Homo sapiens: one gene and its partners. The protein of the gene in region 1 interacts with the protein of each later gene in a pairwise test. Each region holds a gene or a part of one and is shown in the gene's direction. Other genes may lie near its edges.

Region 1 (3,652 bases):
GCCTCGGCCTCCAAAAGTGCTGGGATTACAGGCGTGAGCCACCACGCCTGGCCTAGTTTTCTTACCCCTCTAAACTGAAGGGTTAAGAGTTGTGTCTGTTTCTGCTCTTCATATTAATGGAATCATCCAGTATGTTTTCTTTTGTTTCTTGCTCTTTTTGCTCCGTGTCACCTTCTCTGGGAATCATCCGTGTTGCTGTGTGTGGCTGTAGTTTGCTCTTTTTGTTGCTGAGTAGCACTCTGTTGTCTGAAGGGACCACAGCTTATTTCTCCATTTTACTGAGGATTGGACATTGGGGTTGTTTTCTGTTTTCTGCTCTTATGAATGTTTCCCGTGTGGATTTCTTTAGGTGACATAAGGTTTGTTTAGGGTATTTAAGAGTAGTGTGTTCTTTCTTGACTGCTCTACCGGAAAAAAAGAAAAGGGAAAAAAGAGTAGTATGCCAGGTCATAGGAAAGGTGGCTACAAGTTATTCATACAGGATGTTTGAGAGTCGAAGAAGGCACTGTGACCACTTGCTGTGTAACATTCAGAGCTGGGACTGTCCTGGGCACGTTGCCGTAAAGTCTGCACATTCACACGATCCCAGACTGTTTGTGCAGAACGGTTCTGCCCACTTGCGCTCCCACCAGCACAGCGTGAGTTCATGTCAGCCTACATCTTTGCCACAACTTGGCGTTGGCTGACTTTAGTTGTTGCCAGTCTGGTGAGCACATCATGGTGTCTTGTGCAGGGCTAGCTTTTCCCCCATTTCTCCATCAGATAAGAAAGCAGAGATTGACATCCTGGCTGCAGAGTACATCTCCACGGTGAAGACGCTGTCTCCAGACCAGCGCGTGGAGCGCCTGCAGAAGATCCAGAACGCCTACAGCAAGTGCAAGGAATACAGTGACGACAAAGTGCAGCTGGCCATGCAGACCTACGAGATGGTGAGGGCGGGGCGGGGGCCATGGCTCTTCCTCTGACCTCTACTCCTGCCTCTCATGCAACAAAATGTAAAAACTGCCCGGAAATGGGCATAGCCAAGTGGAAGGCTGGCTTTGGTAGCTGACGCTGCTGGAGGAAGTGCAGACGGAATACACTTCATGTAGGACCATCCCTGTTTTTTTTTTTTTTTTTTCTGGGCCCTTTTTGTTTGTGTATCTGCTCGGAGGAACCATTTGGGTTTTTTTTGAGACAGTCTCACTTTGTCGTCCACGGTGGAGTACAGTGGTGTGATTTCAGCTCAGTGCAACCTCCGCCTCCTAGGCTCAAGTGATTCTTGTGCCTTAGCCTCCCTAGTAGCTGTGATTACAGGCATGCAGCACCACACCCAGCTAATTTTTATATTTTTAGAAGAGACGGGGTTTCACCCTGTTGGCCATGCTGGTCTCGAACTCCTGACTTCAAGTGATCCACTCGCCTCAGCCTCCCAAAATACTGAGATTACAGGCATGAGCCACCGTGCCCGACCTCCAGGTGGCCATATTTTATTTTATTTATTTATTTTATTTATTTATTTATTTTTGAGACAGAGTCTTGCTCTGTCGCCCAGGCTGGAGTGCAGTGGTGTGATCACGGCTCACTGCAACCTCCACCTCCTGGGTTTAAGCGATTCTCCTGCCTCAGTCTCCCGAGTAGCTGAGATTACAGGCATGCAGTAGCCATACTTTATTATTATTATTATTTTTGAGATGGACTTTTGCTCTTGTTGCCCAGGCTGGAGTGCAATGGTGCTATCTCGGCTCACTGCAACCTGTGCCTCGCAGGTTCAAGCAATTCTCCTGCCTCAGCCTCCTGAGTAGCTAGGATTACAGTCACCCACCACGAAGCCTGGCTAATTTTTGTAGTTTTATTTTTTTATTTTTGTATTATTTATTTAGTTTTTGAGACAGGGCCTCACTGTGTCGCCCAGACTAGGGTGCAGTGGCATGGCTGCAGTTCAGTGCAACCTCCACTTCCCAGGCTCAAGCGATTCTCCTGCCTCAGCCTCCTAAGTAGCTGGGATTACAGGTGTGCACCACTACCAACAGGCTAATTTTTGTTTTTGGTTTTTGGTTTTTTTTTTTGAGACAGAGCTTCGCTCTTGTTGCTCAGGCTGGAGTGCAATGCCACGATCTTGGCTCACTGCAACCTCTGCCTCCTGGGTTCAAGCGATTCTCCGGCTTCAGCCTCCTGAGTAGCTGGGATTACAGGCATGCGCCACCAAGCCCGGCTAATTTTGTATTTTTGGTAGAGATGGGGTTGCTCCATGTTGGTCAGGCTGGTCCTGAACTCCCGACCTCAGGTGATTGACCTGCCTCAGCCTCCCAAAGTGCTGGGATTACAGGTATGAGCCACCGTGCCTGGCCTGTATTTTTAATAGAGATGGGGTTTTGCCATGTTGGCCAGGCTGGTCTTGAATTCCTGACCTCAAATGATCCACCTGCCTCGGTCTCCCAGAGTGCTGGGACTACAGGCGTGAGCCACCGCGCCTGCCCTAATTTTTGTATTTATTTTAGAGATGGGATTTTACCATGTTGGTCAGGCTGGTTTTGAACTCCTGACCTCAGGTGATCAGACTGCCTCGACCTCCCAAAGTGCTGGGATTACAGGTGTGAGCCGCTGCACCTGGCCTCCAGGTAGCCATATTTTAAAGTAGGGTTCAGCGTCAGATATCCCAGGCCTTGTTCACTGCATTTCACAACTCTGCTTCTCATTATTGCCCACACTCATGTCTTTTCCCTAAATGGGATTTATTCCATTGCAATGTCAAAATATGCAGAAAAAGCACAAGACCCTTGCATGGACTTTGAAATAGTGGGCCTTGTTTTAGCAGAGGTTTGTTCATTGGAGACTCAATTAAAGGGCAAGAAGGTGTTTCCTGGTGGATACTTTTGTACATTCGTGATTCTGAGGTGTTTTGGTTTTACTTTAAAATAAGACTTTGGGTATCCTTTTGTAGGTGGATAAACACATTCGAAGGCTTGATGCAGACCTGGCGCGCTTTGAAGCAGATCTGAAGGACAAGATGGAGGGCAGTGATTTTGAAAGCTCCGGAGGGCGAGGGTTAAAAAGCAAGTCTGTTAATTTTTTTTCTTTATTTTATTACTGTTAACTATGGAGTTTTGAAGAGTTTTGTCACGGTAAATCATTAAAGTATGATCACTAGGGTAAGTATCATATTTGGGTAAACCTTGTCTTGCAGGCTGGGTGTGGTGGCTTACGCCTGTAACCCCAGCACTTTGGGAGGCTGAGGCAGGAGGATCACTTGAGGCTAGGAGTTTGAGACCAACCTGGGCAACATAGCGAGACCTCATCTCAACAAAAAATTTAAAAATTAGCCAGGTGTGGTGGTGCACACCTGTGGTCCCAGCTACTCGGGAGGCTGAGGTGGGTGGATTGCTTGAGCCCGGGAGGTCAAGGCTGCGGTGAGCTATGATTGCTCCGCTGCACTCCAGCCAGCCTGGGAGACAGAGCGAGACCCCTTTTTAAAAACAAAACACAAAACTTGCCTTGCTTTAGAGAATTCTATAAAAATAATTTGCATCTTGATTATTTTTCAGAAGGCCGGGGTCAGAAAGAAAAAAGAGGGTCCCGGGGCCGAGGCAGGAGGACATCAGAGGAAGACACACCAAAGAAAAAGAAGCACAAAGGAGGGTAAGAGGCTTTCCCCTCTTTTTCCCAAAAGAAC
Region 2 (3,652 bases), on another chromosome or scaffold:
TAAGGAAAGAGGAAAAAGAAGAGCAGGGTGTTGCCACCATTTTGTGGGTCCAGTGATACACACGTGACCAGGAGGACGGGAAGAAAGAAAACCTCAATAGGCACAGATGACACAAAGGGAAGGCTTTTATTCAGCCCATCTTTTCTCTGTAAATTCCCCTCAATTCCATATGGCGATACTGTTTAAGAGAAAATGAGAAGCCAAATCCTAGCGTGTTCAGTGATTTTCAACTGGATGTATGTATTGGGTGAGGCGGGGAAGGGGGGATGTTAACTGATGGGAATGCACTCGTGTCACTTAATGATGGAGCTATGTTCTGATAACTGCCTCCTCGGGGATTGCGTCCTTCTGTGAGCCTCCTAGGGTGCCCTTACACACACCTAGATGGTACAGCCTATTACACACCTTGGCTGTATGGTACAGCCTTTGCTCCTGGGCTACAAACCTGTACAGCATGTTACTGTACTGAATACTGTAGGCAATCGTAACACACTTGGCCTATCAAAACACAGAAAAGGTACAGTAAAAATATGGCATAGGTTGAGCATCTCTAATCCCTGAAATACTCCAAAAATCTGAAACTTTTTGAGCACCAACGTGACTCTTAAAGAAAATGCTCATTGGAGCGTTTTGGATTCCAGAATCTTGGATGAGGAGTGCTCATGTATTAAGTATAATGCGAGTATTCCAAAATCTGAAATCCAAAACACTTCTGCTCCCAAGCATTTTGGACAAGTGATACTAACTATATTATAATTTCATGGGACCACTGTCATATATGTGGTCTGTTGTTGACCAAAATGCCATTAGGCGGCACGTGACTGTACAAAATTCCTCAGACATGTAAGATGCTTGTGTGTTGATAATCACAATTATATCTTCCTTGGCATCTCTGTATACCTACTATGAGGCCCAGTGTTGGATAGTTTTTGAGATGTTGTGTAAGATGTCGTCCTTACCTCCTAGAGTTTATTTGTGAGGGGAATTACCTACATGAGAATGACTTGCAAACATTACATGATGGCATCGGAACGGTGGGGTTGTAATTCACTTACCTGATGGAGAGACCACTTCTTTCTGGAGTCAGGGACTTCAGGGAGTACAAGGTGTGAGGACTATGATTTGTAGAATCAGTGAGCAGGATTTCAGCAAATGCTTTGGGGGCAATGGTGTACATAAAACTACAGAGGTGGAAGAACACCAAATATGTTCATGCCCAGAAGAGCTAGCAGTGTTTGCCGGGCGCAGTGGCTCACACCTGTAATCCTAGCACTTTGGAAGGCCGAGGCAAGTTGATTATCTGAGGTCAAAAGTTCAAGACCAGCTGGCCAACATGGTGAAACTGCATCTCTAGCAAAAAATTTTAAAAAATTAACCAGGCATGGTGGTGGGCACCTGTAATCCCAGCTACTTGGGAGGCTGAGGCAGGAGAATCGCTTGAACCTGGGAGGCAGAGGTTGCAGTGAGCTGAGATCAGGCCACTGCACTCCAGCCTGGGCAACAAGAGAGAAACTCTGTCTCAAAACCAAATAAAACAAAGAGCTAGCAGTCTTGTGTGGGGCAGGAGGCTTGTGTTAGGTTGCTAAAGCCTGTGAGCCAGATCTGGCTGGCGGCTGGTCTCTTGCAGCTCCTGAGTTGAGAATAGTTTTTTAAAATCATTTTATTTTACTTAGTTTTGGAGAACAGGGTCTTGCTATATTGCCAAGGCAGGTCTCAAACTCCTGGGCTCAAGCTATCCTCCCACCTCTGCCTCCCTAAGAGCTGGGATTACAGGCATGAGCCACCGCACCCAGCCATTTATTTTTATTCTTGACATGGAGTCTTGCTCTGTCGCCAAGGCTGGAGTATACAGGTGCAATCTCAACTCACTGCAACCTCTGCCTCCCAGATTTAAGTGATTCTCCTGCCTCAGCCTCCTGAGTAGCTGGGATTGCAAGTGCCTGCCACCACACCCAGCTAATTTTTGTATTTTTATTAGAGACTGGGTTTCACCATGTCAACCAGGCTGGTCTCGAACTTCTGACCTCATGTGATAACACCCACTTTGGGCCTTTCAAAGTGCTGGGATTACAGGCGTGAACTACCACACCTGACTGAGAGTAGTTTTTACATGTTTAAAGGATTTTAAGGAAAACTCAAGAATGTAGCCCCTCCAGTATAAAATATATACTAAATCTTCATTATAGGGGATTCAGTGTTTGGCTTATTCTGTTTACTGGAGGGTTTAGTTATAACTTCTTAGAGATTTTTGGTTTTGTCTTGTTTTATTTAGGAAGCGTTGGGAGATGTTGTTTATTGTAGTCTCCCTGAAGTTGGGACAAAATTGAACAAACAAGGTGAGTGTTCTTAGGATCTTAGAATGATCCATGCCATGAATTTTGTTTACATTGAATAGTAATTTGTTTGTACCCTGGATTAATTAGAGTGCTTTTTTTTTTTTGGAGACAGTCTTGCTTTGTCACCCAGGCTGGAGTGCAGTGGCACCATCTCGGCCCACTGTAACCTCTGCCTCCTGGGTTAAAGCGATTCTTGTGTCTCAGGCACGTGCCACCACGCCCAGCTAATTTTTGTATTGTAGAGACAGAGTTTCCCCATGTTGGCAAGGCTGGTCTCGAACTCCTGACCTCGAGTGATCCGCCCGCCTTGGCCTCCCAAAATGCTGAGATTACAAGTGTGAGCCACCGTGCCCAGCCAATTAGAGTGCTTTTGACCCAAGTATTAGGTTGGTGTAAAAGTAATTGCTACTCAGAGGCTGAGACAGGAGAATTGCTGGAACTTGGGAGGCGGAGGTTGCAGTGAGCCGAGATCCCATCACTGTACTCCAGCCTGGGCAACAGAGCAAGACTCCGTTTTAAAAAAAAGAGAGAAAAAAAGTCTATTAATATCGATATGTTAGATAATATCCTTAAACTAATGAATACCCTTTTAAGACATTCTGCTAAAGGTAGTTTTTTAACTTGATGTAAAATCTACATACAGTGAAATGCATGGACCAGAAGTGTACAATTCAGTGAGTTTTAACAAATGTATACACTTAAATAAACCTTCCTAGTCAAATAGATGACCTCTTCTCTCGTTTCTACACCATAGGTTTATTTTGCCTATTCTTTATATGAAAGGAATCACACAGTGTGTGTTACGTTTGGCTGCTTTTGGGATTTACCAAGCTTCTTGAATCTGTAGATTGAATTTTTTTTCGATTAAATTTGGAGACTTCTTATTTTAGTCATGATTTCTTTCTCTTCCCACTTCATTCCTTTTTCCTTCTCTGATTTGAGACATGTTCGTCATATCACTTGATATTGTCCTATAGGGTCCCTAAGACTGTTAACTTTTCAGCCTTTTTTAAACTGTTCTTTTTTTTTTCTTCTTATTTTTTTGAGACGGAGTCTTGCTCTGTTGCCCAGGCTGGAATGCGATGGTGCGACATTGGCTCACTGCAACCTCCGCCTCCTAGGTTCAAGCAATTCTCCTTTTTCAGCCACCCAAGTAGCTGGGAGTACAGGCATGCACAACCACACCAGGCTAATTTTTTAAATTAATTAATTTATTTATTTCGAGGTTTTGGTAGAGGCGGGGTTTCACCATGTTGGCCAGGCTGGTCTTGAACTCGTGACCTCAAGTGATCTACCCGCCTTGGCTTCCCAAAGTG
Region 3 (3,652 bases), on another chromosome or scaffold:
AGTGAGCCGAGATCACGCCACTGCACTCCAGCCTGGGTGACAGAATGAGACTCCGTCTCAAAAAAAAAAAAAAAAAAAAAAAGAAAAAGAAAAGGAGATGCCAAACCACAATTAGGGCTGTGTCTCAGTGGCGTTTCCCTACATAAGGCAAGATGAACGGAAAGTGTTGCCTTCTTACCTGGCACCTCATGAGAGGGTAGTTGTCGCTCTGCTTTGTACCCCAGCTTCCCTTTAATACCGACAGTAAATTCATATCCCTTGGCCAGGTTTATTTTCTTCATTCTATAAAAATGCCTATTTTAGGAAGCTTACGTATAGTAGCACTTGCTATCTGCTAAGCATTGTGCTAAGCACTTGGCATGTATCATCTCATCTTCCTTATTACGTTCGTATGAGATAGATAATATTTTATCCCCGGGATTTTTTTTTTTTTTTTTGAGATGGAGTCTCGCTCCGTCGCCCAGGCTGGAGTGCAGTGACGCGATCTCGGCTCACTGCAAGCTCCGCCTCCTGGGTTCACACCATTCTCCTGCCTCAGCCTCCCAAGTAGCTGGGACTACAGGCGCCTGTCACCACGCCCTGCTAATTTTTTTTATTTTTAGTAGAGACGGGGTTTCACCGTGTTAGCCAGGATGGTCTCGATCTCCTGACCTCGTGATCCGCCCGCCTCGGTCTCCCAAAGTGCTGGGATTACAGGCGTGAGCCACTGCGCCTGGCCTTTATCTCTGTTTTGAATTCAAAATATTCTTCCAAAATTTGTTACTGCTGTAACTAAAACAACTGACCTACCAAAGCACTTTGGACTAATTTTCTTTTTTCAAATCCCTCCTCAGCGTACCAGTAATGTTCGATCCACATTTTTCAAGGACTGTTTATATGAAGTATTTGATGACTTGGAGTCAAAGATGGAAGATTCTGGAAAACAGCTACTTCAGTCAGTTCTCCACCTGATGGAAAATGGAGCCCTCGTATTAACTACAAATTTTGATAATCTCTTGGAACTGTATGCAGCAGATCAGGGGAAACAGCTTGAATCCCTTGACCTTACTGATGAGAAAAAGGTAAAAAGTAAAGCATTGGTCCCTTCTTCAGGCTAGTGGATTTTATCTTCCTCAGAAAAGCTCTTTTCTAGTTGGTATATTGGTATTTATGTAGAGCTAGAAAGGAAAAATTTTTTCCCTGGTTGGAGTTTTTGTTTTTCTTTTTTCTTTCTTTTTAAAGATCAAATCAATATACAGTAAAATGCATAGAACTTAAAAGTGTTCAGTTCTATGACTCTTGACAATTTCATCCAGTTTTAAAGCAAGATTAGAGGAAGTCACTTGAACTGTAAGATCTCTTTAGCACTTGACAGTATTCAGTGGTGTAATATTGATAATGCTGGTTCTATTTTAGGATACCTTTTTTTATGGCATCTATTGGAAATGTATGAAAACTACTTTATACTGATTGGAAGAACAACTTCCAGGCCAAGCGATGGCTGAATTGAGGTTAATGTTTAGTGGAAACCTCAGCAGACTTTGTTTTAGCATAGTCTATACTGTACCTACCATAATTATTGAATTATAGATGTTGATCTGTGTCAGCTAATGAGATGAGTTCTTAAAGTCTCATTGGTCCTACTCTGTGATTTTTGTAATGTTTTTTCCTACACTTTGTTTTCCTCAGGAATCTGCCTTTATGTCCAATTTAGAGCCCAACTAAGTAGAGTTGAATAGACAAGTGATTTGCCTGCTGGCATTCAGTACTACAGTATTGCCCCTGCCAGAGTGGTAGCTGAAATACCACTCTTGTGGTTTTGCTGACCTTGATGGCAGGATTTAAAGGGAATTGAATTTAGAGAAAAGCTGCCCCATGAAGACTAGTTTTCTCTGGTCCAAGTGTCTTCCGCCTACGCCCTCATATTCTGTATGGTCAGCTCCTTCTTCATTTATAACTCTCAACCTAGGGATCCCCTCCTGAGAGACCTTCTCTGACCATCCTATTTAAATTGGATACTTATTTTTTTTATCCAGTCTCTTGTCCGTTTCCTTTGTAGCACTTAGTATTAACTTGCAGCTTTTTTTTTTTTTTTTTGAGAGACAGTTTCGCTCTTGTTGCCCTGGGTTCAAGTGATTCTCCTGCCTCACCCTCCTGAGTAGCTGGGATTACAGGCATGTGCCACAACGCCCGGCTAATTTTGTATTTTTGGTAGAGACGGGGTTTCTCCATGTTGGTCAGGCTAGTCTCAAACTCCTGACCTCAGGTGATCTGCTAACCTCAGCCTCCCAAAGTACTGGGATTACAGGCATGTGCCTGGCCGTTTTGTTTTGTTTTGTTTTGTTTTGTTTTGAGATGGAGTTTTGCTCTTGTCGCCCAGGCTGAAGTGCAATGGCATGATCTCAGCTCACTGCAACCTCCTCCTCCTGGGTTCAAGCGATTCTCCTGCCTCAGCGTCCCGAATAGCTGGGATTACAGGCACCCGCCATCACGTCTGGCTAATTTTTGTATTTTCAGTAGAGACAGGGTTTCACCATGTTGGCCAGGCTGGTCTCGAACTCCTGACCTCAGGTGATCTGCCCACCTTAGCCTCCCAAAGTGCTGGGATTACAGGCATGAGCCACCACACCCAGCACAGTTTTTATCTTGGCTGTTTATCTGTTTTCTGACTGTTTACCCCATAGGAATAGTAACTTCACTTGGATAGGTATCATGTTAGTCTTTCTTACCCTCATAACTCAAATACAACCCTCATGTCTCAAATATGACAGTTAGGTGCTTGGTAAATATTTTTTTGATTAATAAATGATTGGGCTGGGCACAGCAGCTCAGGCCTGTAACCCCAGCACTTTGGGAAGCTGAGGCGGGAGGATCACTTGAGCCTAGTTCAAGACCAACCTGGGCATCATAGCAAGACCCCATCTCTACAAAAAGTTTAAAAATTAGCCGGGCATGGTGGTGTTTGCCTGTGGTCCCAGCTACTTGGGAGGCTGAAGCAGGACGATCGATTGAGCTGAGGCAGTCGAGGCTACAGTGAGTTGTGATCACACTGTTGCACTCCAGCCTGGGTGACAGCATAAGATCATGTCTCTAAATAAATAGGCTGGGCACAGTGGTTCACGTCTGTAATCCCAGCATTTTGGGTGGCCGAGGTGGGTGGATCACTTGAGGTCAGGATTTTGAGACCAGCCTGTCCAACATGGTGAAACCCCGTCTTTACTAAGAATACAAAAACTAGCTGGGAGTGGTGGTGCACGCCTGTAATCCCAGTTACTTGGGAGGCTGAGGCAGGAGAATCATTTGAACCCAGGAGGCAGAGGTTTCAGTGAGCCAAGATTGCGCCACTGTGCTCCAATCTGGGCAACAGACCAAGACTCTGTCTAAAAACAAACAAACAAATGATTGAAATTTTAAAACTAGCAGCTTCTATGCTATTTGTGATAAAATTTCCAAAGATTATGACCAAGTGTGTTCATGGATATCAGAAGCATAAGGACCTTTTAAAAGCTGAGGATATCTATCACATTTGATGTTTTCCTTCTCATTTCATCCTTGGGCCTCAAGATTTGCATTGTATTTTCAGCCCACATTAGGGGCAGTGTTGCAGTCTAATGGTTAAAGACATTGACTGGTAGTCAGAATGGGGCCTAGTAACATTCAAATTCTAAATCTC

The links.
Region 2: the proteins of ING5 (region 1) and GCSH interact in a two-hybrid assay, tested with the Homo sapiens proteins (one large-scale study listed by BioGRID and IntAct).
Region 3: the proteins of ING5 (region 1) and FAM118B interact in a two-hybrid assay, tested with the Homo sapiens proteins (one large-scale study listed by BioGRID and IntAct).

The regions. Positions count from the first base shown.
Region 1 is NC_000002.12:241,708,454-241,712,105, forward strand, and holds part of ING5 (inhibitor of growth protein 5), read left to right. Parts: intron 1-762; coding exon 763-929; intron 930-2,923; coding exon 2,924-3,035; intron 3,036-3,524; coding exon 3,525-3,618; intron 3,619-3,652. UniProt on the Homo sapiens protein: Component of the HBO1 complex, which specifically mediates acetylation of histone H3 at 'Lys-14' (H3K14ac) and, to a lower extent, acetylation of histone H4. Component of the MOZ/MORF complex which has a histone H3 acetyltransferase activity.
Region 2 is NC_000016.10:81,086,285-81,089,936, reverse strand, and holds part of GCSH (glycine cleavage system H protein, mitochondrial precursor), read left to right. Parts: intron 1-2,272; coding exon 2,273-2,336; intron 2,337-3,652. UniProt on the Homo sapiens protein: The glycine cleavage system catalyzes the degradation of glycine. The H protein (GCSH) shuttles the methylamine group of glycine from the P protein (GLDC) to the T protein (GCST).
Region 3 is NC_000011.10:126,249,673-126,253,324, forward strand, and holds part of FAM118B (protein FAM118B), read left to right. Parts: intron 1-833; coding exon 834-1,061; intron 1,062-3,652. UniProt on the Homo sapiens protein: May play a role in Cajal bodies formation.